Linked DNA regions of Homo sapiens: all the other regions are linked to region 3. Evidence: fine-mapped expression QTL. A gene starts in region 3. Each other region holds a variant in brackets. All regions are shown on one strand. Distances are from middle to middle. Region 1 overlaps GDPD5 (glycerophosphodiester phosphodiesterase domain containing 5). Region 2 overlaps GDPD5 (glycerophosphodiester phosphodiesterase domain containing 5). Region 3 holds the start of GDPD5 (glycerophosphodiester phosphodiesterase domain containing 5). Region 4 has its middle 14 kb from the start of SERPINH1. Region 5 overlaps GDPD5 (glycerophosphodiester phosphodiesterase domain containing 5).

Region 1 (5,100 bases), 60 kb after region 3:
CTGCATCTGGCTGACCATGGCACCCGCCCTGGGTTGGGGGAAGGCAATCAACCTGGCTGTCCTCAGCAGCTGGAGAGATGTGGTGTAGAGCAGGGAGGAAAGGTTTGATCACTGTCTTCACATAATTAAAGGGCTGTCAGACGCGAAATGATAATTACAGGAACGATCCTGGATTTGGCGACTTACAGCTTACATCTGTAATCGTGCTGGGGCCTGGCAGTCCTCCTGTGAGGTGGTGGTGATGTCATTCTGTGAACAGAGGAGGAAGCTGAGGTCAGAGGTCCTGAGCGATTGGCCTACAGCCACACAGCCGGTGGGAAAAGGGCCTGGGTGAAAATCCAGCTCTTTTGTGTATTCTCCACTCTGTGGTCATTTGACCCCAATATTTCTTACCCTTTGGCTGGCCTTGTTCTGTGTGGTATCAGAGAACCAGCTGCAGGGGAGCAGTGGAGGAGGCAGATTTCAGCTCCACCTCCCGGGGGGGGGGCGTCGGGGGAGGGCAGTAACTCCCCTGCCTGGAAGGTCAGCCTCACCAGATGCCGTGCATGGGAGGTTTTAGTGGTCTGGGCAGCATGCCGATACTGTCCCCATTTTACAGAGCAGGAAGCTGGGGCACAGAGAAGGTAAATGTCTTCCCCAAGGTCACTCAGTCGTGGCCAGTCTGGGATTCAAACCCAGTATTGCCAGACTCCCTCAACCCAGCCTTCCGTTGTCAGGCTCCATGTCTTGGAAGGAAGAATTTTGAGTCCACAGAAGGACTAGGCAGCATCTGGAAGGAGAAGCCCCTTCCCAGGAGCCAGTGGAGTAGAGTAGGGTGAGCTCGTGTCCTGGAGGCTGCAGACACGCTCGCTGCCTCAGGGCAAGGGGACAGGCAGGGGAGCTCTGCGATTCTGAAATTCTGTAACATTCAGAGTGATGTGTGCAGACTTCAGACCCCATGTTCTGTTAAGGGACCAAGGGGAGGTGCTCCATAACCTTCAGGATCCCTAGTAGTGGGAGGGGCAGCTGTGTGCATTTTGGCCTGGGGCTGCAGTCTACAGTGGCAGGGGCCTGTAGCCAGTGGCAAAAGGCAGCAGCAGAGCCATCCCACCCCAGCGGCCATGCCCATGCTTCCTGTGTGGGGCTGGGTTTGCGGCTGCAGTCGTGCTCTGTGACTGTATGAGCCCCCGCTGCTAATGAGGTCTTTCTCTATGTTCTTCTCTGAACACAGAGGGCTCTGGGGTGGGAGGAACAGGACAGAGACAAAGAAGGGTGAAGAGAAGACATGACCATCCTCAGGAGACAGTGAGGAGAAGGACTGGCCTTCAGGGAAATTGACCCACAATTGCCCAGATTGCTACGGAGGGGCTCCTGTTTCTGGAGGGTTAGGGTAATAATGGAAGGAGATGCAGTGGCCTCTGGGTTGGAGCCTCCAGGATTCTCCATCACAGCAGCCCCCACCTCAGCCTCCATCCCCTCGGGCAGGAATCAGCATCCTACCCCATCCACAGCCAGGGGCCACTCCTGCCCCAGCTGCTCGCCCTGTCTGGTCCCTCCTTAGGCAGTCTCCAGCACACTCCTCCTGGTGCCTACCCCAGGAGCCAGCTGCTCCCTCAGCCCCAGCCCACTCAGCTTTTCTCCTGCTCCCTGAGGGTAAGTCTGGGGCTTGCACGATGGCCCTGCCCACTGGTGGCCCTGAGCACCCCTCTGTTGCCCTGTCTCACATCCATACCTCCTTCTATCCCTCACGCCATAGGTGACCACCACCTTGTGCCCGGCGTGATGCTGGGCCCAGGAGACATAGAGACAGCTCAGGCCATCCCTGCCCTGAGGGAGCTCGCAGCCCAGTGAGCCACCCTCATTATGCGCCCACTGTGTGCCACTTGAAGCCCTTCAGCTCATTTAACAGCCTCCCTCCGAGGGAAGGGCTGTTATTCCCATTTACAACGAGGAGACCGAGGCTCAGAGGGGCCAAGTGACGTGCTGAGTGGCAGAGCCAGCTCTTTAGAGCCCGTGCTCTTTCCATCTCCACAATTACAATTTGATTGAGGGTCACAGTGGTGGGTGCCAAGAGTCTGTGCAGGATGGTCAGGGAGGGGAGACCTTTTGAGCCCTGGAGGGATGGAAAGGCTTCCTGAAGGAGCATCAGGTCTGGCCTAGGGGTCAGAGAGTTGGAGGAGAGAAATCCAGGGAACTAGGCTGGGCCTGGGATCGCCATACTGGGTCCCAGAGGGCAAGGTGGGTTTTGAGGGGAGCTGTTCAGGCTGCCTCCCAAGGGGGCCTGCAGAGTCCAGTCAGTATGCCTGGGTTCAAATCTTATCCCCACTCCTCCCCTACCTGCTGACCCCTCTGACTCCCCTCCACTCACCCGTGTTGAGCCTTTATGCAAATTAGCAAAAAGCACCCATTTTCTAGGACACACCCGCCCGCCATGTGCCAGCAAATCGTCATAATATGCACATTGATGGTCACCATGATGTGAGTGGCACTTCTTAGGGGGCAGTGCACAACTTGCTCAGCCATATGTGGTGGCCCTTCTCTGAGCTTCTGTGCAATGGGGGTAGATACCCCTAAATAAACAACCCCTAGTGTTATGCAGACTGTGAGAGATGAAGGAGGGCCGTGGCCGGGGCATTGAGGCAGCGATCACTGCTCCACGTCTCTGGGAGCAGGGCCAGATTGGCTTGCTAATGGGTGGAGCGGGCAGGCCTCTCTCTGCTGTAATGTGCCCTGACAAGGACCATTAGTGCTATTGGGGCCTCTTTATCAGTGGAGCTGCTCCCCAGGCCACTTCCTCTGGCTACTTCCTCACCTTCCCCTTCCCTTCCTTCCA[G/A]TCCCTGCCATTCAGTGTTTTCCTCTGATTGTTCTTAGAGTGACCCCCGCTGCCTGCCTCCCTCTGTGCTGGGGCCTCTTCATCCCCATCTACAGGCTCACTGTGGCCTCCGGCTTCAGCTCCCAGGGCTTTAATCCCTAGGTTGCCCCAACCCCAGCTCATGCACTAGTTCTGATCATGGGGTTCCTGGCTCCTTGTTGCTTAGGCCCTGCCTGCATTCCTTCCATGCCTGGATGCCTCACCCCCAACCACCACCAGCTCTGGTCTTGGCTGGTTCCCAGGAGTGGGAGGTGCAGCCCCTCATTCCTGCCCTGCCTTGCTCCACTGTAAGGATCTGGACACTTGAGGACAATGGCCTTTAGGGCATAGGACCCTGGCTGCCATGGGCCCTCCCGGCCCCTGTGGTCTTCCTGGCCCCCTGTCAGCCTTGCCCCTGGGCCCTGCATCACCCCGGTCACAGGTCGTCTTCCCAGCGCCTACAGGAGGTGCTTTACCTTCCCGCCTCCAGGCTACTTGCCTGGGACCAGACCCATCCTAGGCCGAGGCTCACCCCTCGCCTAGGTCCCTCTCAGAACCTTCTCTGCTGGTCAGAGGCACACAGGCCTTGCCCCTGAGGAGGCAAAGTGGTCTCTGTGGACAGACAGCCATCTAACACTGCCAGCGTGGGCTCTATAGAAGACTAGGTACTTTTTTGTGGGAACTGGGTGTTAAGCCTCAGGGGAATCTCTCCTGGGTGGGTGTACTCATGCCAGGGTAGGAGAAAGGGTGTTTCCTCACCTATCATTTCATTATCAAATCTTTTCAAGTTCCTGTGCCATCTGGAACACGAAAACTGCCCAGATCTCAAGGCATTTATGTATAGCAGGGAGACCGACATGTATAGAGACAGTTCTAGAACTGTGGGGTCTGAGCCATAGGTGAGATGGCTGCATGGGTTACGGAGCTCTGAGGAGATGGGATTCACCCTGTGAGACAGGGGAGTCTTCAGGGAGGAGGCACTCTGGAAGGAGTAGTTTGCCTCATGGAGCAGAGAAAGGTTGCTTTCTAGATGGAGGCTCCAGCTGTGTGAAGGCTTGGGGTCTGAAGAGCCTGTTTGGGGAACCGTATGTAATTCTGTGCATGGGGCATAAAGCACAGAGCTGGCCTGGGCCAGACAGAGTGGGCCCTGACATCTACTGAGAAGCTCTTGCCAGTGGGACTCTCAAGCTGGGGTATGACGTGACCAGATGGGTGTCAGTCTAAAGACATGGTTCACCCTTTGGGAGACTCAGATGTTTAAGCTGGCCTGGGACTCACCAGCTGCACTCTGCAGGGAATGAAGGCTGTTATGAGCAAATAAGAATTTGAGGTGGCAAGACGGATTCTGAGAAGGACTAGTCCTGGGGTGCTGGCTGGAGGGTGGTGGAGAGACGGTCATGTGCAGACCCAGACTGCCTCCATGGGAGGCAGGACTGAGTCTAGGGACTCAGCCATTCTCTGGGTGGCAGCTCCTAGGGTTCGATTGCTCTAGAAGGGCACATGTCCTGCCCTGCTCCTAGCCAGGGTTTCCCTATTCCTGACCAAGGCTGGGCTTTGCTGTGCCTGGAACTGGAGCTTGTGCCATTCTGTGTCCAGCTGGGGCAGACACAAGTGGCCTACTCTCTGAGAAGCCACCACCTCCCCAAGCCTAAACCTGCTAGAAATACTGGGCCTCAGGGTGTCGTCACCTTTGCATCTCTGTTTATGTACGAAGTGAGGCTAAGCAAGGCAGTCGGGCTCTGCACATGACAAGGAGTGGTGGCAGCTGCTCACCCAAACATGAGTCGCCCAACTGAAGTGACCCACCTGGGACAGGAGGGTCACCCAGGCACCAGCCCTCTTGCCCAGGGCGAGGCACGGAGCAGGCCCTTAGTGGGTATGGAGTCATGGACCATTAGGGTGTGAAGGCCTTTCCTACGTTCTGGAGAGGCAGAGGATGTCACAGATACACTGGTAGTGTGCTGAGTGCTCACCAAGCCACCTGACTTGTATTATCTCATTTAATTCTCCATCAACCCCATGGCATAAGTACTAGTATTGCCCTCATTTCATAGAGGTGAAAACTGAGTCACAGAAAGAATGAGTACTTTGCCCAGAGTTACACAGCTTGTAAGTGGTGACAGGGATCTGAGGTTCCTGGGCAGACTGATGGTATCTTTGCATGGTGTGGGATGGAAGGATTCTGGACAGTGAGAAGACTTTCCCTCCTTCCTGCCCAATCCTGCATGTGGTCATAAAGTACTAGTAGAGTGGAAGTCGGCTCAGTCTCT
Region 2 (5,100 bases), 85 kb after region 3:
GTGACTCCAGTTACGTTTTAAAATACCACAAAAAAGTGACATATACACTTTCTCCATGTACATATATAAGTAGATATTAGTATAAATGGCAGGAAGAATCCATACTAATCTCATAACAGAGGTTATCTGAGAAGGGAAGAAGGGCAGAACTGTCATATATAGTTGTACAGGTTGCATACTGAACAAGGGCATCACATAAATGAGGACATTGTTCCCAGTATAGACATAGAATTGTGTGTTTATCACAACTTTCTAGCAGATGGTGGTAAAATGCCTTGAGGAACAGAGGGCACAGGTACCTTTTACTGTTTCACACTAAGGCACCATATGAGCTATTTGCAACCCTGGTAGAGTAGACAAGGATTGGGGTTGGGTGGAATTTGCCAAAGAGGTCTACATTTGCACTGTTCTCATCATAGCATCACAGGGATTTGGTTCCAAACTGGGTTCCACCACTTACAGGCTGTGGACCTTGAGCTAGATACTTCCCTCTCTCAGCCTCAGTTTCTCCATTGTCAAATGAGGCAGCACCTACCTTCCAAGGTTGCTAAGAGAGTAGGTCCAGATTTTTCCCAGCCCTCCCTCCTTGGCAGTCCCCACCCCCATCTGACCCTCACAGAGAGCCAGAAGGCATTGGACCTTCAGGGTCACCCACCAGCCCACTGTCTTCCCTGTGCAGATGGGGAGACTGAGGCCCAGAGAGGGGCAGAGCCAGCCGGGATCCTGTGCTGGGTGGGGAGGACTGTGTGGGGTGACGATCATTGGTGGGCAGGTAAAGGATCTGGGGGGTCACTGACTCGGTGGCCCCACCCTCCCTGCAGCCTGGACGGCGTGCCCTTCCTCATGCATGACACCACCCTGCGGCGCACCACCAACGTGGAGGAGGAGTTCCCGGAGCTGGCCCGCAGGCCTGCCTCCATGCTTAACTGGACCACCCTGCAGAGACTCAACGCTGGCCAGTGGTTCCTGAAGGTCTGGCTGCACCTGATCCCAATCTTAGGCATGGAAAACACCAGCAGGGACTGCAAGGAGTGAGAGGTGCAAGGGTGGCCATCAGCTTCGAGACCCCCACTCTCAGAGCTTTCGCGACCTCCACCCAAGCTGCTTAGTGGCCTCCTAGGCTCCTGCCACTGCTGCCAGACTCATGGTTGTCACTGCTTGTTCTGGGTCCATTTCCCTCACTAGAAAAGGTTGACAGGGATGAGAGCAGTGAATAGAATTCTTAACTCTGTAAAACTCTAGAGAGGGGTTGGCTCTCTGATCTGAAATGCTCTAGAAGGAGAAATGCTGTGGGTCTGGGAGCGATTCCAAGCAAGCCGTCCTCCGTCCTCTTGGTAAGCAGGGTGTGGGGTAGAAAGGTTAGGGCTGGGGCCTCCTACAGCCTCCACATGGCCACAGCCATCAATCTGCCTGACCCCAGCAGACTCTGGCAGCCCAGGGGTCTCCACGCTTGGTTGCCAGAAGGGTATGTGGGGGCCCCCAAAGGGCTGATGATGCAGCCATGTGTGTGTCCCTGTCCCTGCCAGACTGACCCCTTCTGGACAGCCAGCTCCCTGTCACCCTCCGACCACAGAGAGGCCCAGAACCAGTCCATCTGCAGCCTGGCAGAGCTCCTGGAGCTGGCCAAGGGCAATGCCACACTGCTGCTCAACCTGCGTGACCCGCCCCGGGAGCACCCCTACCGCAGCAGTTTTATCAACGTGACTCTGGAGGCCGTGCTGCACTCCGGCTTCCCCCAGCACCAGGTGAGGCCCTGCAACGCAGCTCTGCCCCCGGGAGCCCTGGCCTGGCTAGAGCCCTGCTGCTGCATAGCCTTTCCCTGTTGCACTCCGGACTTCAGCTTTCCCATTTGTAAAATGGGGATCACACACTGCTCACTTCCCTGGCAGGGTCATCATGGGACAAGAGGGGAACAAGAAAACACTTTAAAATGTATAAAGGTCCAGGCGGTCAAGTTATTTCAGTGAAGTGTTGCCCTGTCGTTTGGTGTAATAATCTGGGACCAGAGAAATCTGACATCAGTTTAGGACGGCACACTAGGTGCTAGTGGCCATGTGCAGAGTAGTGGCTGTTTGGGTTTTCCCTCCCGTACTGACAGCAGGCCAGAAGCGAAGTTTCCTG[A/C]GTTGCTGCCAGTGCACTTTGCAGCCTTGGCTGGGACTGAGTCCTGCCCTGCTAATGACTTCATCTAAGCTTTCACCGCCTGCCAGGTCCTGTCTCTTAACCCCACAGGTGCTCTAGGAGGAGTAGGTACTCTTACGCATCGTGCAGAAGAGAAGTCTGAGGCTGCCTCTCTTCTGCCTGCAGGTCATGTGGCTGCCTAGCAGGCAGAGGCCCCTGGTGCGGAAGGTGGCTCCCGGCTTCCAACAGACATCAGGCTCCAAGGAGGCAGTCGCCAGCCTGCGGAGAGGCCACATCCAGCGGCTGAACCTGCGCTACACTCAGGTGTCCCGCCAGGAGCTCAGGTGCCTGCCCTGCCCTGGGCTCCTCCAGGAGAGGGTGGGACTGAGTCTCTCCCAGTCCTGCCACCACCACCCCCCAACACACACACACACACACACACACACGGTCGGGCAGAGGGATGGGCACACAGAGGAATCAGGCACACATGGTTCAAAGACAAGAGGGTGAGCGTGTCGGGCAGACCCGGGCTTGTCCCGGAGCTTGGCCCTCTGGAGCCAATGTTCCTTGCCCCGGGCATGGCTGTGAGGTCGTGAACAGGACGTGCTTTACCAGCCCCGACACTGGGCCTGGAGCTGCCAGGGTCCGCATGCTGACCTGCCTCTCCCCTGCCCCACAGGGACTACGCGTCCTGGAACCTGAGTGTGAACCTCTACACAGTCAACGCACCGTGGCTCTTCTCCCTGCTGTGGTGTGCGGGGGTCCCATCCGTCACCTCTGACAACTCCCACGCCCTGTCCCAGGTGCCTTCCCCCCTCTGGATCATGGTGAGTTGGGGGGCAGAGGGCCCCTGGGGGGCAGTGCTGGAGCTGCCTATAGCCTGCCCTGACCACTCGGCAAGCTCTGTGCTTGGAGCTGTCCCTGGGAGGTCTCTAGCATGGTGGGGAGTCCATGGTGGGCGTGCAGGCTTGAGGCATGAGGGTTTCATGGCATCTGGGATCTGCACTAAGGTGCTGGGAGGACCCTGGGCCTCATCCACAGGGAGAAAAGCATCACTAAGGGCTCTAAAGAAGTAAAGAGCTGCTTGGGTTTCTTTGCTTTGGAGGGTAACAAGGACAGGAATAGGAAGCATTGACCGGGCGTGGGGCTCACGCCTATAATCCCAGCATTTTGGGAAGCAGAGGCAGGATGATCACTGGAGCCCAGGGGTACAAGACTAACCTGGGCAACCCTGTCTCTACAAAAAAAAATAATAATAATTAATTAATTTGCTGGCCAAGGTGGCACACGCCTGTAGTCCTAGCTACTCGGTAGGCTGAAGTGGGAGGATTGCTTGAGCCCAGCAGGTCAAAGCTGCAGTGAGCTGTGATCACTCCAGCCTGGATGACAAAGTGAGATCCTGTCTCAAAAAATAAAAATAAAAAAGAATAGGAAACAATTAAAATCTGCTCAGAGAACAGCAAATAAAGCAATATTTTAGCTGGTTGACTGGGCACCTGCAGATAGGTGGTGGCTCCACTGTCACCCTGAGCATGCAGAAGGCAGGTGGAGGGTATCCTTATGGCTGAGAGAATGCAGTGCCAATGAATCAGACCTAAGCTGTGGATGGTTCTATGGGAGAGGAGGGTGAAGGGAAGGCAGCCTGGGGAAAGGGTCGAGACCGATGGATGAGAGTCGGCAGCGGGGGGCGGCAAAGCCATTGTCTTTCAGTATCTGGCTCCTGCTTTGAGGACCCTAGACACACAGACCCTGCAGGCCTAGCACACAACCCCTCTGCCCTGAGCACCATACAGTCCCCTCCTACCCTGAGAGTGCACACGTGTGCACACACACGCCCCGGCCCCCAGGCCCACAGCGCCTGGAGCCTACACCTGCAAAATGTCATCTTCAGCCCCCAGACCCTCTCAGGGTCCTCCCTTGCCCTTCCCCAGTGGCCATGTGGGGTCCTTTGGTCCACGGACCCTCAGTCTGGAGCCTCAGTCTGGACTGGCCATGACTGGAAGTTGGCCTCGGGCCGTCTGTCCACAGCCCCCGGACGAGTACTGTCTCATGTGGGTCACTGCCGACCTGGTCTCCTTCACCCTCATCGTGGGCATCTTCGTGCTCCAGAAGTGAGTAGGATCTGACCACTTCCGTGGCTGTCCCTACCCTGCAGCAGGCCCAGCCCCCACCCCAGCCAGGTGAACCCTCTCCTGAGCCCTGGGCCTCAGCCAGGAGCAGGCCTGACCAGGGAAGAAGGACGGACTCCGGTGGCCCCATCCTCCCTCAGACAGAGGCTGGGTGACTTCTGGAATGAACATGCAGCTGGGATCCCAGAGCCAAGCTCTGCCTTGGGTGGCTATGTGGGCTTAGGTGAATTTCAGCTCCTCACCGGGCTGGCCTGCTCATCTGTTAGCCAGGGCATGGGTTCCCACCAGCCCTCAGCAAGATAGCTGGGGTGTGCTCGCAGTGGGGAGGTGTGGTTGGTCCCAGGGAGGGTCTAGGGCCAGCCTGGGGCCCCCACCCAGCCAGGAACCAAGGGGCTGGGATTTTATTCTTGACTGATGTTCTCTCTCTGTCCCATCCTGCTCTGATCGGCGCATGTCCCTCCTCTCTCCCCCTCCCCCTCTCTCTGCTGCACTCTGGCATCTCACAGCTATCACTTGATCAGGTAATTCTGGTGTGGTCTTCCTCCTCCTTCTGTTCCTCTTTCTCCCTCTTGCCATCCCTTCTCCAGTTCTGTCTAAAAACCCACCGTGCACCAAGCCCTGTGCCCGGGCCACCTCGCAGACAGCGCGCTCGCCTGAAGCCTCCCTTACCCCCGCAATCCTCTTTTCTGCTCCTCCCGTCCCACTGCCGTGTGTGTCCCTCTGCTCCCTGTTCCCACGGCCGTTTCTGCAGGTGGGGACCAGCGTTTCCTTGACAGCTTCCTGACCTGGCCCCTCTCTGCACCAAAGTGTCTCCCTGGGGGAGGGGACCCTGCCTGGGTACCCCCATCCCCCT
Region 3 (5,100 bases):
ATGTCTATCTGCCATAAGAATGGGAGGAGCTGCGTTTAACAGCCCTGGGGCCCGAAGCTGAAGCTGCTGCCTCCGGTGAGAAGAATGTAAGGAAGGTAGAAGGTTCTTGGGAGAAGTAGGGCATCAGGCAGAAAAGGCTAATGTTTCCGTGTAGCCTCACCCTCGACCACCGCCCAGACCAGCCACCATGACCACCTCTGTCATGCTTCATGGAACTCCTTGGCCACCAAAAGGCCAGATTCCCCAGCTCACAAGACTCCCTCCCCTTTGGAAGAGTGGCCAGAGGGCAAATGTGGGTGTCTTGAGACCTGTTTGCTAGTCACCTCCTGACGACCTTGGGCATGCCTCCCCCTCACACACCCCCAGCGCCTCAGGGGTCATGGAGGGTCTGTTCTGAAAATCTCCTTTTATTCTGACATCCTGCTCATCTGACCCAGCTAAGGAGGCTCTCGCAGCAGGGGCAGCCAGAGAACTCTCTGAGAGCCTCATTCATCTCCCAGTGCCGAGATCTCACAAGGGCAGGCCATGTACCAGGCTGGATGGTGGCGGGTGGGAGGGAAACCAGACATGGAAATCAATCATTACAGAACCTTCAAGCTGAGGGAGCCCAGACCAAAGGCAGGCAGCCTGGGGGAGTTCAGGAAGGCTTCTCGGAGGTGGTGATAAATCTTGGTGGAGATAAATCTTGATAAATCTCATGAGAGATGGGTCATTTATTCAACAATTGTTTACTTGGCACCTACTATGTGCCAGGCTCCGTGCTAGGCTCTGGGGATACAGCAGTGAAGAGAACAGATGAGCATTTGGCCTAGAGGTTCTGCCCTTCAGCCCAGCAGAGAAATGAGAATTAACTCCAGAGAGAAGGGGAACAGCAAAGCAACACATGGAGGAGACAACTGCATGGAGACAGAATGCATCCTGCTTGCTGATGGAGCTGAGAGAAGTTGGCGCAAGTAGAGAGGGAAGTAAGCAATGGGGAGATGAGGCTGGTGGAGTCAGCAGGCAGAGAGCAATAACAAAGGGGCTGGAACGCCAGGCTAGGGATGTAGGGCTTGGTCATGCTGGCAACCGGGAGCCAGAGAGGGCTCTGGACAGAGGGAAGGGCCACAAGGTTTCTTAGCGTCAAGTTCAACAAGTAAAGGCAAAACTGCCTTCTCCCAGCCCTCAGGCTCCAGAGACCAGTCCCAACTTCCTGGGCCCAACTTGCCTACTCCCAACCCCTGGGCCTGAAGAAGACAGGGCACCCTCAAGTCCGCAGCCTGAACTTCAGCCTCCAGCTCACCCTCTTCTTTGTTCTTCCAACCAGTCTCTCAGCCATAGTCTGATGCCATTTCTTTTGCAGGGAATGCCCATGCTTCACCCTCTGAAGCCTGCTGCCTGCCCAGTCCCTCACCTGGTTCCCTGCCAAGTAGCACCTTTATTCTTCTTTTATAGATGAGGAAACAGAGGCTCAGAGAGGGAGAGTAACCTGTTAAAGCCACACAGCTTTACCCTAGAATTTGATAATGATGGGTGGATAGAACTCTGTGCCAGCTGTGTGGTCTCGGGAACGTCACTTAGCCTCTCTGTGCTGAGTCCTCATCTGTGAAATGGGGTACCTATCACAACATAAGGTTGGTGTGAGGTTTACAAAGAGACTGTACTGTGCCACCAACATCCCTTAGCTCCCCAGGCCAGTTAGCGGCTTTCACATGGTCCCTACCCCACTCCCCCGCGGCACACATTCAACTTTCATTCATACATCAGTTCCCTCCAACACCTTCTCTGCGCCTGGTCCTGTGCACACACTGAAGACGGCTCCTTGGCCAAGCACAGGGCTCACACCTATAATCTCAGCACTTTGGGAGGTCGAGGCAGGAGGATCGCCGGAACCCAGGAGATCGAGACCAGCCTGGAAAACATAGGGAGACCCTGTCTCTACAAAAAATTTAAAAATTAGCCAGATGTGGTGGTGCACGCCTGTAGTCACAGCTACTCCGGAGGCACAGGTGGGAGGATCTCTTTAGCCTGGAAGTTCGAGGCTGCAGTGAGCCGTGATAGTGCCACTGCACTCCAGCCTGGGCCACAGAGCGGGACCCTGTCTCAAAATAAAATGAAATAGAAAATAAAGACGGCTCCTGCACCCAACGCGCGGGGTGGGAAGGGGCGGGAGCGGACTGCAGATGCATCACGATTCGAAGTGTGTGTCCTCACACAACTCTGCTCTTGAGTTCGTATTTTTAAAATTGACCACGACGCTCCTCCTCGGGGATGGGCGCAGGGAAGGGAGGCTTGTGGAAGACAAATTCGCTCATTTCCAAAAACTTATTTTTCACCGTTTCCTGAAATCTGAACACTTCCCAGCCCAACTCTCACCTCTGAGCGCCGAGCACTAGAAGCTAGGGAGAAGCAAGGTGTCGGTGGCATCCCACCACTCAGGAGGGCTCGCTCCAGCGTCCCTGGGACCCCTGACCCCGGATATCCTCCACCTTGCCTCGCCCCGGCTTCTTTTCCTACACTGGCCCCTGCTCCTTCCCCGTGACCCCCGCAATCCCCGCACAGCAGTCCCCATGCCCCCGTCCCAGGCAAGCCAGCCCTCTCGCCTCTCCCTCCTTCCGGGTCCCGAGGCCAACCCCCTCCCCGATTCGGCCCGTTCCGAACCCCCAGCCCCGCCATTGTCCTCTTGCAGCCGCACCTCTCCATTGTCCGCCCCGCCCTCTCCGAGGTAGAATCCGCTTTCCGCAGGGCGCCGCTCCGCTCCCACCCTCGGATTGGCTCCTGCGGCCCCACGCGCGAGGCCCGGGAAGGGGAGAGGGCGCGCACCCCGCCCCTGCCCGCAGCCGGCCGGGGGCGGGGTCTCTGCTGACTCCGCCCCGTCCGGGCGGGGCCGCGCAGGCTGGCGCTGGGGCGCTGGGCGGCGCTGTTTCGGCTGAGCTCGGGCTGCGGCTCCGGTGGGGGTGGGTGGCGGGGATGACAGCGGAGGTGGCAGCGGCGCGGCGCTGAGCGAGCGGCGAGGGAGCAGGGGAAGAGGAGGAAGTGGAGCCGCGGCCGGGAGCTCGGGAGTCGGCCGCCGCGCCGAGGTTCGCCCCGTTTTGCAGAGAGAGCCGAGTCGGGACCTGGAAAGACTTCCCCGCGGGGCTCCGGCCGCCGCGCCTCCCCGCCGGCGCCTGCCCTGCCCTGCCCGTCCCAGCCCCGCGGTTCGGGGCGTGCGGCCGGGACGCGCGGAGCCCCGGCCCTGACCCGCTGCGCCGGGACGGGACGCTCCTAACGCCGCCGTACCGGTCCGTGGTTGCAGGGTCGCTCCGCGCCTTTCCGTCAGTGAGGGTCGGAACCCCAGCTCCAGGGCTAGCGCAGTGTGGCCCCAGGCCCTCGCCTCCGGTGCACGGGACCCCGGACCCCCCCAGCCTCTGGCTTCACGAGACCCCAACCTTCAGTTGGAACAGCTTGGAACAGCGCGAGCGCCCGGGAAGCCCTGGCCGGGTCGTGCGCTCGGTGAGGGGTCCTAGGCGGGCAGGACAGTCGGACCGAACCGCCGGGCTGGTGCCGCGAGCCCAGGCTGTCACCTTCGTCCCGCCTCAGGTGAGGGGTTCAGCGCCTGCCCCGAAGATAACACAGGGGTCCCCTTCTGTCCCGGCGGCCTGCGAGAGCCAAGGCTGCAGGTGAGAGCCCCGGATGCGCGGCAGGAGCGGTCCCCGACCCCATCGCGGCAGCGCGGGGGCCAGCGGAGGGAGTGTCAGGGGAAACAAGCAGAGGCTGGAACTGGCTGGGAGGGGGCGCGGGAAGGGGAGGGGAAAGAAAGAAAACGGGTACTTATTGAGCGCCCATTGTGTGCGGGTTCGCGCCCTGCCCCGCCCCGCCCCGCCTAAGCCTCACTGCTACTCCTGAAATAGGTGTTGTGTATTATTATCGGCGCTTGCAGATGGAGAAACTGAGGCTTAACGGGGCTGAGTGACCTCCTTTCACTGCGGGGAGGAGACTGGGGAAGCGGGAGAGGATAGAGGGGGAAGAGGCAGAGCACTTGAGCGCTGATGCTAAAGCTGAGGAAGTGGCTTCTTCTTGCCTCCCGCTCCCTGGCCATGTCACCCGCGAGGAAAGGTGACTCAGAGTTGAGGGTAGAGGTGGGAAGCTTCCCAGTTCCAAAGCTTCTCTCCCTGTGGGCCCAGGATGTGAGAGCAGCAGCTCCTGGCCCTTGTGTGTCAGACTCCAGGGTCTCTAAGACACTCTGGAGGTCCTGAGACGTGCTTATCTGTTGGTGAATTCACTGCAGAGATCCCCAAGTAAGGGTCTGTCAGAGCTGGAGATGTAGCCCCTCTGGGGTGGCTGGAGATGTGGCTCACGTGACTCACCTCCCTCACATTACTAATGGGGACACTGAGGCCCACCCGAAGGGAGTGCCAGTTGTCCGATCCTAAAGCCAGTGAGTCCTTGAGCCACAAGTAGACTTGAGAAAACCTTCCTGAGCATCCTTCAAGGTATGCACACTCCTCCCCAGTTAGGATCTTCTGGATAGGTGGCTGGGGCTTTCCCTATCGCTGATGTGAGATCTGGGCGACCATGTATGAGGCTGTGGTGAGAATTAGTGTGGTTGGTTGCTGGGGCCCCGAGGAATGCCTGCAACCGCATTGCCTTTGGCCCAAATGGAAGGTCCAACCTCATTTTCTTCTGGGCAGGGGAACCTGCAGGATACCTCTGCCCAGGAAGGAAGGGACCTGCTCAAGGTCTCAAGGCTGGGGGCTCCCAGGGCTGGGGCACAGTCCCAGGTGTCTTTATTCCCAGGCAGGGGATGCTTCTGCTGCCCCCAAGGCATGTAGGGAGAGGGGTGTTGTGAAAGAGCCCTTGGCATGGACTCTGTGGGCTCTTATTCTGTGTGGGGACGGGGAGGGGATATGGCCTTGGTCTGGGCCCTGTGGCCTTGGCTAGGCCTAGTTAACCCTAGAGATGCCCAACTCCCTGGAGTCAAGGGGAAACCACCTTGGAAAGCCCCTGGAAGGTGGAGGAGCGTGGTGAGAGGTCTGTGGAAGTCTGAAGCTCAATCCCTGGGGGTGGAAGGGTTAGGGGATCCCAAAAGACAAGGTGACTGAGGGGCTTGGGATTCCCTCTACCCCAGACCTCTGTCTGGGG
Region 4 (5,100 bases), 22 kb before region 3:
AGCAATTCTCAGCCTTCCGAGTAGCTGGGATTACAAGCGCTGACCACCACACCCAGCTAATTTTTGTATTTTTAGTAGAGATGGGGTTTCACCATCTTGGCCAGGCTGGTCTTGAACTCCTGACCTCGTGATCCATCCGCCTCAGCCTCCCAAAGTGCTGGGATTACAGGCGTGAGCCACCGTGCCCAGCAAAGATTTGTTGTTGTTGAGACACAGTCTCACTCTGGAGTGCAGCGGTTGGGATCTTGGCTCACTGCAACCTCTGGCTCCCGGGTTCAAGCGATTCTCCTGCCTCAGCCTCCCAAGTAGCTGGGATTCCAGGTATGCACCACCACGCCCGGCTAATTTTTGTATTTTTAGTAGAGACAGGGTTTCACCATGTTGGCCTGGATGGTCTCGAACTCCTGACCTCAGGTGATCTGCCTGCCTCAGCCTCCCAAAGTGCTGGAATTATAGGCGTGAGCTACCGTTCCCAGTCTCACGTAGCAAAGATTTATTGAGAACCCACAATTTACTAGGCACTGTTCTAGGTACTGGGATAAAAAAGTGGGCAAAACCAGATCTTTGCCCTCCAGGAGCCTGGTGTGCTGGCGAGTGGAGACACGCAATAAACTAAGAAAGAAATGTGATCATTTCCAGTAATAATGAGGGCTAGCAAGAAATGAAAACAGGTGTTGTGGGTAAGACTACTTTACACCAGGCAGCCTGAAATCTGAATAAGAAGCTGTAATCATTTCCGGTGGCTGCTGTATCTAGTACCACACACTTAGTGGCTTCAAATGATATAAATTTATTCTTTTATGGTTTTGAGGTCAGAAGACTTAAATGGGCTAGCAACTCCTTCTAAAGACTCTGGGGATGAATCTGCTTCCTTGCTCTTTCCAGCTTCTAGAAGCCACCCGCATTCCTTGACTTGTGGCCCCTGCCTCTACCTTCAAAGCCAGCAGTGTGGCAGCGCCAATCTCCCTCTCTCTCTGCTTTCTCCTTCCCTCATCACATCTGTTTCTCTGACTCTGACCCCTCTGCCTCCCTCTTGAGATGGACCTCCCTGATGACACTGGGCCACCAGTAAAGTCTCCCTATCTCAAGATCTGTAATTTAATCTCATGTGCAAAGTCCCTTGTCCCATGCAAGGTAATGCACTCACAGGTTCCAGGAATTCGGACATGGATGTCTTTGGGGAGCCATTCTTCCTCCGACCAAAGGAGGAGGGAGACCTTTATGGTGGGAGGAGGGGATCCCAAGCAGAGGGAGCTGCATGGGCAAAGGCCCCACAGTTAGAATGAACTAGGCATGCTCTAGGAATAGCAAGAAGGTCAGCCTTCTAGAAGTAATGCTCCAGTTAGCTTGATTTGCATCTATGTCATTCGTGAGGCCAATCCCATCTCTATGGACAAATGTTCTACAGTGTGCGTCCAGGAGCCCTGCGAGTCTACGGCATCCCCTTGGCATTTCAGGTCATCTCCTGCATCCTTCTGCTTCTAGCTGCCGGACTCTTCACATGCTTAGAGCAAGAGCACTGGACATTTGAGGAAGGTGCCTGGCTGGGCACTCACCTGGGCTGGGGCCAGGCTGACTCTGGTGGAGGGGTGGGCCCAGTCCCTAGTACCTGAGTATAATCCTGCTCTTTCTTCCCCACTGAAGGCCAGGATTGTGTGGCTAAGGATGGATGGGGGCAGCAAAGCTAGACCTCAGGCAGTGGCAGGAGCTGTCAATGGCCATATTGTTAGCTCTGGGCTGCGGCACGGAGGCACCAGGGTAGGGCTGAATGAGGCATCTGTTCGCTAGGTCAGGATGCCCAGGTCAGGGTCTCTCTTGAGAGATGCCTCCTACCCCCACCCTAACCCCAACTCTGCCCAGACCCTGCCATGTGGCTCCCTTGATATCTCTGGTACCCATCCCTCAGGGACCACAACTGTAACTAGCTGGCTCACTGTGAGGTTGGCTGTTGGATGGTGGTCTTCTCAGTTAAAATGTGAGCTCTCCACATAAGCCAGGAACTGTCTTCATCAATGCCAAGTCCCAGCAGCCGGCAGCCAGCACCCAACCCAGGGCCTGGCTCAGAGAAGTTGCTCCATACACACGTGCAATGAATGGAGGAATGAAGGAACAGATGAGAGAGACTGGGCCACCCTTGCATCCCCTGGTCACCTCCTCCCTTGACCACTGCACCCTCCTGCTCACTAGGCCTCCCTGCCTCTGGTATCTCTTCCCAGACACTCTTCATTCTAACACACCATCTAGTTAAAACCCTCCTGGGGCTCCCTGAGACCCTCAGGATCTGCCAAGCCCCAGCCTCACCAGGCTACCCGCCCACCGATTCTGTCCTCTACCTCTGCACTCCTCCTCAAGCAGTCCCTGGCACTGTCCAGTGTGCGCCCTTGTACTTGTGTATTCTTATGCCCAGAAAGCCCCTCCTCCCCTTCTCCCGGTATGGATGGCTCCTACCCTCTGTTCAGGCTCCTACAGGAAGCGGGCCCTGACCACCCCCAGCCTCCCCTGGGCTCCCACAGCCTGTGCTTCCCCCATCTCAGCACCAATTGTAATTCTCACTTCGTACATCTGTCTCCCTTTCCACACCCTGAGCCCCTCAGGGCAGAGACTAATGCTGACCCACGTCTTTCTTTGTCTGCTCCAGGGCCCTGGACGTGGTCAGGCACAGAACAAATGTTCAGCAAAGGTGTAAGCCCAGCCCCAGGCCAGTGGGCAGGTCCTATAGCCTGACCAGTGGGCGCTTCTG[C/T]CCTCTGGTGTCCGTTTTGGGTCACTATGATTTTCTATCTCTTTGAGGGGCTTCCTAGGGTGATGTACCCCAGCAGTGGTTCTCAGAGTGTGGTCCCAGGACCAATTGTATCAGCATCACCTTGGTACCTGTCAGAAATGAAAATTCTTGGGCTGTACTCTAGGCATGAATCAGAAACTCTGGCTGGGGGGAAGCAATCTGGATTTTACCAAGCCCTCCAGATGTTTCTGATGCAGGCTGAAGTTTGAAAACCATTATCCTGGAAGAACCCTAAGCCTGAACCACTCCCAGGAGCTCCAGTTAAGGGAGGAAACAGGACCCACCTGGTGGAGTTGCCAGGTACAATACAGGATTCCCAGTTAAATTTGAATTTCAGATCAACAGAAACATGTTATTGCAAGTATTGCACAAGACAGACAAACTAAAAAATAAAAATAAAAAATTCATTGTTTATGTGAAATTCAACTTTAACTGGATGTCCTATGTTCTCTTTCTGTATCAGCAGCCCTGTGCAAAGAACCCTGTTCTTATTTCAGTACTCTGCTGTCGCCATCTTGAAATTCTTAGTAATCTTTTTTACTAGGAGCCCTGCATTTTCATTTGGCAATGGGTCCTGCAAAATGTAGCCAGTCCTAGGAAGGATCTTTACAAAGCCTCCCTGGGGGCATTCAGGATCCGGAGCTCAAAGGCAGGCGGAGTGGGACCTCTGGCACCTTAGAGATGTGCCTCTAAGGATTCTCAGCTCCTCCCTCTGCCACGTGCTGGGGGTTCCCTTCCCAGGTGGGTCAAACCTTCATCCTTCTCCGATTGTGGCTCCTGTCTCCTCACTATCTTGCTGCCTCTGTTCTCACCCCTTCTATGCCACCTTCCACACAGGACGGTGAAGTTCCGAAAATGTCTGCCCATATGCCACCCTCCTGCCCCCAAACTTTTCTCTGGATGTCTCCTTCCCACTTTTATTTATTTTTTTAATTTTTTTTTTGAGACAGTCTCCCTCTGTCACCCAGGCAGGAGTACAGTGGTGCAATCACAGCTCACTGCAACCTCCAACTCCTGGATTCAACCAATTATCCTGCCTTAGCCTCCCAAGTAGCTGGGATTACAGGTGTGTTCCACAACACCCGGCTAATTTTTGTATTTTTAATAGAGACAGGGTTTCACCAGTTGCCCAGGGTGGTCTCGAACTCCTGACCTCAAGTGATCCACCCGCCTCGGCCTCCCAAAGTGCTAGGATTACAGGCGTGAGCCACCACGCCTGGCCACCACTGCTTTTATGATAACCAGTGGCTACCATTACAGAGCACTGAAGTAGATGCTTTTCCTCATTATGTCTTGTATTCTGCAAAGTAATTCTCCTCTTGGCCAAGCCTGGGATGGGATTGCTGTGGGCAGAACCAGCCTGCAGCCTCGGATGAAGAGCTGAGTATCCGCCCCAGCTCATGCCTGACAGAGGAAAAGCCGCTGCCTGGGAAGGCTACAGAGGAGCAAGTGGAGGAGAAGCACCAGAATGATCTGTTGAGCACTTACTATGTGCCGAGCACTGTTCAGAGTGGTGGGAGCTGGATGGTGAAGGACACATATACCAACCCCACCGTCCTTGGGATGGTTCCATGGATCCTGCCAGCTTTAATCTCGGGTTTATGCCCTAACCTTAGTGTTCTAATCAAACAGTGGAGGGCAGTGGCTCTTCTTATTTTTAATTTTTCAGAAGCAAGGAGGAAGTCATTCTTTTCTTTCTCGAAGATTTGATTCCAAATTACACTGGGAGAAGTAGGTTGGGGCACAGAGGAAACAGGATTGGTATGACCCACTATTGCTGAGGCTGAATGATGGGTACGTGATGGGGTCATTAGACTCATCTCTCTAATTTTGGGTATGTTTGAAATTGTCCATCATTAATTTTTTTAAAGTATAGTTCAAAGTAATAAAACCAAAAAGTAATATTAAAACTGCAAAATCTCATCCAATGTAGAATAAGACTCTTCTCTGGGGGTGGGCTTGCCTCAGAAACTAGAGACTCAGAGAGGGCAGCGACTGCCTCTGGTCTCCCTCAGTGCAGTGGCGCGATCTCAGCTCACTGCAGCCTCCGACTCCTGGGTTCAAGTGATTCTCCTGCCTCAGCCTCCTGAGAAGCTGGGATTACAGGTGCCCACCACCACACCCAGCTAATTTTTTGTATTTTTAGTAGAGACAGGTTTTCACCATGTTGACCAGGCTGGTCTCGAACTCCTGACCTCAGGTGATCCACCCGCCTTGGCCTCCCAAAATGCTGGGATTACAGGTGTGAGCCACCTCACCCAGCATCTCCATGACCATCTGTCTATAGAGTGGGAGAGAGAGCAGATCAGGCCCTCCTTGCC
Region 5 (5,100 bases), 70 kb after region 3:
ATTAATTCAGTGGAAAACCACGTGGCTATTTTAAAAATCACATTTTCTCAGGATTTTTACTGGCATAAGTAAATGCTTGTGTTGAGAAGACAGTTGGCCAGGTGTGGTGGCTCACGCCTATAATCCCAGCACTTTGGGAGGCTGAGGTAGGAGGATCACCTGAGCTCAGGAGTTTGAGATCAGCCTGGGAAACATGGCAAGACCCTGCCTCTACAAAAAATACAAAAAAAATTAGCCCGATATTTTGGTGGGTGCCTATGGTCCCAGCTGAGGTAGGAGGATTGCTTGAGCCCAGGAGGTCAAAGCTTCAGTGAGCCATGTTCGCATCCCTGCACTCCAGCCTCAGTGACAGAGACCCTGTCTCAAACAAACAAACAAAAACAAAGAGAGTTTATTGAGTAGTTACCATGCATCTCACCTCACTTCATCCTCATGAGACCCCATGAAAGGCACTTTTTATTTATTTATTTTATTTATTTATTTATTTATTTATTTTTGAGACAGAGTCTCACACTGTCGCCCAGGCTGGAGTGTAGTACTGCGATCTCTGCTCATTGCAAGCTCTGCCTCCCAGGTTCACCCCATTCTCCTGCCTCGGCCTCCCGAGTAGCTGGGACTACAGACGCCTGCCACAACGCCCGGCTAATTTTTTGTATTTTTAGTAGAGATGGGGTTTCACCATGTTAGCCAGGATGGTCTCGATCTCCTGACCTCGTGATCCGCCCGCCTCAGCCTCCCAAGTGCTGGGATTACAGGCGTGAGCCACCACACCTGGCTTCAAAAGGCACTTTCTTATCCCCATCCTATAGGTGAGGAAACTAAGGCTCAGAGAAGTCAAGTATTACATTCGATCAATTCTAAGACCCCCAATTTTCACATCTTAACATTGAAGTTGAGATGACAGTGACAATCGATGGCATCTTAGAATCAGTGAAGCCTGTCCTCCACAAGGTCCTACAAGACAGTGAAAAGCAGAGACGAGAGGGGATGTGAATCCAGCCTGTGTGCCTCACTCCAAAGCCTGTGCTCCTGACCGTGTTGCTTTGTGCAGCGGGGTCCTGGCTTTGCTGTTTATACAAACATATAGGCATGGGGGCGGGGGAACCCACAGGAGGAAGATCCAGCACAGCCTTGGTAATGATTACTTCTGGCCAATAGGATTATGGGGCATTATTTTCTCCTTTACATTTCTTGGTCCCCGGGTGGCTGCCATGAGCAGGCATGGTAGAGCATCAGGCAGACGCTGAGCCTTATTGCTAGGTGGGCACAGCCTGGTCACTGAGCCCAGCCTGTCGTCTGTGTGGAGGCTCAGACCATCCTGATTCCTGGGCCAGGTAGTGGCCTGGTGGAGGTCTGACCCCTGCCCCCTCTCCTCCTGGCAGGTACCTCTACAACCGCATGGGCTACTGGAGCGACTGGCCCGTACCCATCCTTGTGACCACAGCTGCTGCCTTCGCATACATCGCTGGCCTCCTGGTACATGGGGCTGTTTTGGAGGGCAGGTGGCCCTGCTCCCAGGGGAAGGGATACTGGCCCTGTGCTGGGCTGATGGAGGGTCCCACCCTGGTATAAAGGGGAAAGCTGTATTTGTAGGAATATTGTATTTGTAGGAATGTATCCTAAGGAAGTAATCAAAAATACAGAAAGATATGTATAACATTTTCATTTTTATCTTAATTTATAATAGCGACTAATCAGAAGCTATTTCATGCCACTAGTAGGAAGTTGGCTACATATGGCACATTAATTCAGATTTTGCCCAGGGCCTCTCGGGCTGCTGCACCTGAGGCCTGGGTCCCCCAAAGCAGGAGGTCCTCTTGCTTTTGCCCGTCTCTCTAGGCTGCCCCTTCCTGGAATGTTTGCCCCGGACCCAGTGAGAGCTGTCCTGGCCGAGAGGGCCCACTGCAGGCTTCCTCTTCCAGGAGCCTCTGCTTCAGGCTCTTGCTCCCGATATTCCACTCACTGAGATGCAGGTGGATCCCCCATGCTGGACTGGGGGCTCCTTGGGGACAGGCTCAAGTCTGTTTCAGAATCCCGGGGACTGGAACTCCCAAAATGTTTGATGAATGAAGTTGAGTAGTCCAAGTACAGCAGCACCCAGTGACCTCTTGACGGGGAATCACACAGAGGAAGAGCCTAGAGGCCTGGAATCATCTGGGAGGAGGCCAGGCTCAGGCTGGCTAGTCTGGGCTGGGCTGGGGAGGGCAGCGCATTCCCATCGCCTGGAGGGAGGTTCGCTGCCTCTGCCCAGGGTCAGGCCCAGAGCCGCAGTGGGGAGCAGGGTGTCTGAGAAACTGGCAAAGCCTTCCCGCCCACACGGGCCTGACAATCACCCTGTGGGTCCCTCCTCAGGTCCTGGCACTATGTCACATTGCCGTGGGGCAGCAGATGAACCTGCACTGGCTGCACAAGGTAAGGGCCGCCTCGGCCGGGGCTGGGAGAGAGCAAGGGAAGCTGGAGGCAGCAGCAGCAGAGGAAGGGCCTGGCCACCATGTCCCTCCCCTGGATC[A/G]CCGTTAGAATTGTTCTCATAGCTAAGGCTGAGCACTCACTATGCGCCAAGCACTTTTCTCACAACCTCACCCGTCTTCATTCACTTAACCCTTACAGCAACCTTGTGATGTAGGTACTGTTATCATTCCATTTTGTGGTTGGGGAAACTGAAGTACAAAGAGGTTAAGTGATTTGCCTAAGGTCTCCCAGTTTAAACATGGAAGATCCAGGGTCCCGCAGTCATGTGATTAACCAGCAGAGCTCACAGCTCATACTGTGGCACCCACCCTCTGGGGGCCCTGCCTCGGGTCTCACCTGCCTCTTCCTTCTTTGGTGAGCTCTTTTGAAAACCCTGATCTGGCGATGGCATTCCCCAACTTAAAGCCTTTCCACCACTCCCACCGCTCCCAGGATGACCCAAACTTCCCTACCTGGCATGATCTGGCCCCTGCTGATCTCCCAACCCATCATGGGACAGTCACCCTCAGCTTCTGCTACATGAGACATCTCATGCTCTCCCAGCATGTCTGCCTCCTTCCCCCGTTTAGCACTTTGCTCTTGCCCTCCCTTTTTCTCTCGGACCCCTTCCTCAGTACCTCCCCTACATACACAGGATTCTCTCCCGGGACTTCCTCAGCCCCTGCAGCCTCCCCTGCTACATGTCTGAACAGCTATGTTTTTGTGTTTTCAGTATTCGTCTGGCTCCCTGACCCCGACCCACCCAGTCAAGGTGCTCTTTGCAGGCCAGAGTTAACCTCCATCTCCCTGTTCCCAGTGCCCCCCCTCAGGGCTGGGCCCAAAGCAGACAGGCTTCACCCATTCCGGAGCCTTAACTCTCTGCCTTACGTCCATTGCAGGCATAGTGCTGAAGTGTGTTTCTGATGCCTGGCCTTCTTGGGGCCCTGGTGGGCACAGAGTGGTACCGAGCTGACCAAGGCAGAGCCCCTCCCTCCCAGGAACATCTGGATCGTCTCCCTTTCCCCAGAGCCTGGCTCCCCGTGGGCCTGCCATTTAGGAAAGGGCAGAAATGTTCAGAAACTACCATGAGCCCATGAGATGGGGCCAGAATGACTCCAAGGGGAGGGGCTCACTTCTAGCTAGAAGACGGATGTGGAATAGGAAAGGAAGAGGGGACAGCATGAGCCTGGGTTGGGCTGTGTGGAGTGGGAGGTGCCTGTGAGCATCCAGGGAGGCACCGAGGCCGGTTTGTTACATGGGCCTGGAGCTTGGGAGTCAGACCCCAGAGACTGAAGTCTTAGAGTGGTAGGAGCCGTGAGCAGCCCCTGGTCCCCCCACCTTCCTCCTGCCCTCACTCTACTCACAGGCCTCCTCTGGGCTTCCACTATCCCCTCTGTGAGGGAGTTTCTTCTCCTGGCTGCAAAGCTGGCATTTGAAAGAACTGCACCAGCTGGCACCCCGGGTGGGGCTGGCACATGCTGTGGTCACCTTCTGGGGCCATGCCTGGCTCTCAGCAGGTAAGGTCACACATGCTTGATTCTAGTGGAGAGGCCTATAGAGCCGCTGAGCCAGCTGGAGCTGGCAGATCAATGCAAGGAAGCAGATCCCATTGTCCATGCTGGTGCCAGCTCCCAGGGTGCCTTCCTCTGCCCTCTGCCCCCTATGTGAGATCGCAGCATGAGCAGGGTCCTTTCAGGTGGAGCTGACCCAGAGCTCGACCCGCCCCACCAGGAGGGAGTTCCCCAGAGCTCAGAGTGTTCCAGCAGGGCCTGGAAATTCTCTTCTGTTTCTAAGATTCTGCCATTTGATTCTAAAATTCTAAGGACTCTTTATTCTTTTTTGTTTGCTTTAATTAACTTTTGACCATGTAATACATCGACATGATTCAAAATACAAAAAGCACAAAAAAGTATACAAAGAAAGTCTCCTCACTATCTTTCCAGACAGATTTTAAGCACATGCACATGTACATATGCATTTCCTTTTTCTTTTTTCTTTAAACACAAACAGTCGCCTACTCCACCCTCTGTTCCGCACCTTAACAGAATTCTTGGAGCTCCTTCTTCGCTGCATTAAAGCATCCCTGTTGGTATCCATCCCTTGCTCCTGCTCCCTGGTCTGGATATTCCCTGATTCCCTAGGCGTCTAGCCAGTTCCCTGTTGATAGACCGGATCGACATCCCAGCTGCTTTCTGTCTTTTGCCAGGACGATGTGGTGGTGACCTGGGAGAGGAATTTCTGGGTGAAGAATGTGTACTTTCATCATTTTGATCTTGCCAAATGGCCTCCTTGCCAAGTGCCTCCGATTCATGCTCTCTTAGCAATGGATAGTTGTTCTATAAAAACACCCTTGCCCATAAAGCATCAGCTGATTTATTGGCTTTTGTCAGCCTGATGGGTGAAAAGTGGTACCTTGCTGTAGTTTTCATTTGCATTTCCCTTCGGGTGAGTTAGATTCGGCATTTTTCACATGTTTGAGTAACTTGTGTTTTCTTTTCTATAAAACTGTCTCTTCATATCTTTTGCCATTTTTGCCATTGCTTTTTGCTTATTCATTTGCAGGAACTCTTTATAGATGTGGGAAATTAGCCATTTGGCTAACAAACTGCAAATAATTCTTCCTAGTTTGTCATTCATCCTTGGACTTTGCTC

Evidence for each region.
Region 1: its variant is fine-mapped to the expression of GDPD5 in lung (TOPMed, PIP above 0.99).
Region 2: its variant is fine-mapped to the expression of GDPD5 in whole blood (TOPMed, PIP above 0.99).
Region 4: its variant is fine-mapped to the expression of GDPD5 in fibroblasts (GTEx, PIP 0.98).
Region 5: its variant is fine-mapped to the expression of GDPD5 in whole blood (TOPMed, PIP above 0.99).

What each region holds. Positions count from the first base shown.
Region 1 is chr11:75,464,067-75,469,166 of GRCh38, reverse strand. The region is part of intron 3 of GDPD5 (glycerophosphodiester phosphodiesterase domain containing 5); the gene reads left to right. Among named protein-coding and RNA genes, the nearest start is that of KLHL35, 33 kb to the right of the region's middle. RefSeq lists enhancers at 782-1,428, 1,429-2,076, 2,345-3,017. The variant G/A (reference allele first, on the strand shown) is at 2,813.
Region 2 is chr11:75,439,008-75,444,107 of GRCh38, reverse strand. It overlaps GDPD5 (glycerophosphodiester phosphodiesterase domain containing 5), which reads left to right. Exons shown (of 17, transcript NM_030792.8): 11 at 822-972; 12 at 1,527-1,745; 13 at 2,305-2,462; 14 at 2,798-2,945; 15 at 4,147-4,229. Among named protein-coding and RNA genes, the nearest start is that of KLHL35, 8.4 kb to the right of the region's middle. RefSeq lists an enhancer at 2,608-3,170. The variant A/C (reference allele first, on the strand shown) is at 2,122.
Region 3 is chr11:75,523,748-75,528,847 of GRCh38, reverse strand. It overlaps GDPD5 (glycerophosphodiester phosphodiesterase domain containing 5), which reads left to right and starts at 2,907. Exons shown (of 17, transcript NM_030792.8): 1 at 2,907-3,638. RefSeq lists silencers at 2,580-2,639, 2,690-3,209 and an enhancer at 3,056-3,556.
Region 4 is chr11:75,545,380-75,550,479 of GRCh38, reverse strand. No RefSeq gene overlaps it. Among named protein-coding and RNA genes, the nearest start is that of SERPINH1, 14 kb to the left of the region's middle. The variant C/T (reference allele first, on the strand shown) is at 2,741.
Region 5 is chr11:75,454,069-75,459,168 of GRCh38, reverse strand. It overlaps GDPD5 (glycerophosphodiester phosphodiesterase domain containing 5), which reads left to right. Exons shown (of 17, transcript NM_030792.8): 5 at 1,383-1,476; 6 at 2,353-2,412. Among named protein-coding and RNA genes, the nearest start is that of KLHL35, 23 kb to the right of the region's middle. RefSeq lists an enhancer at 2,232-2,830. The variant A/G (reference allele first, on the strand shown) is at 2,510.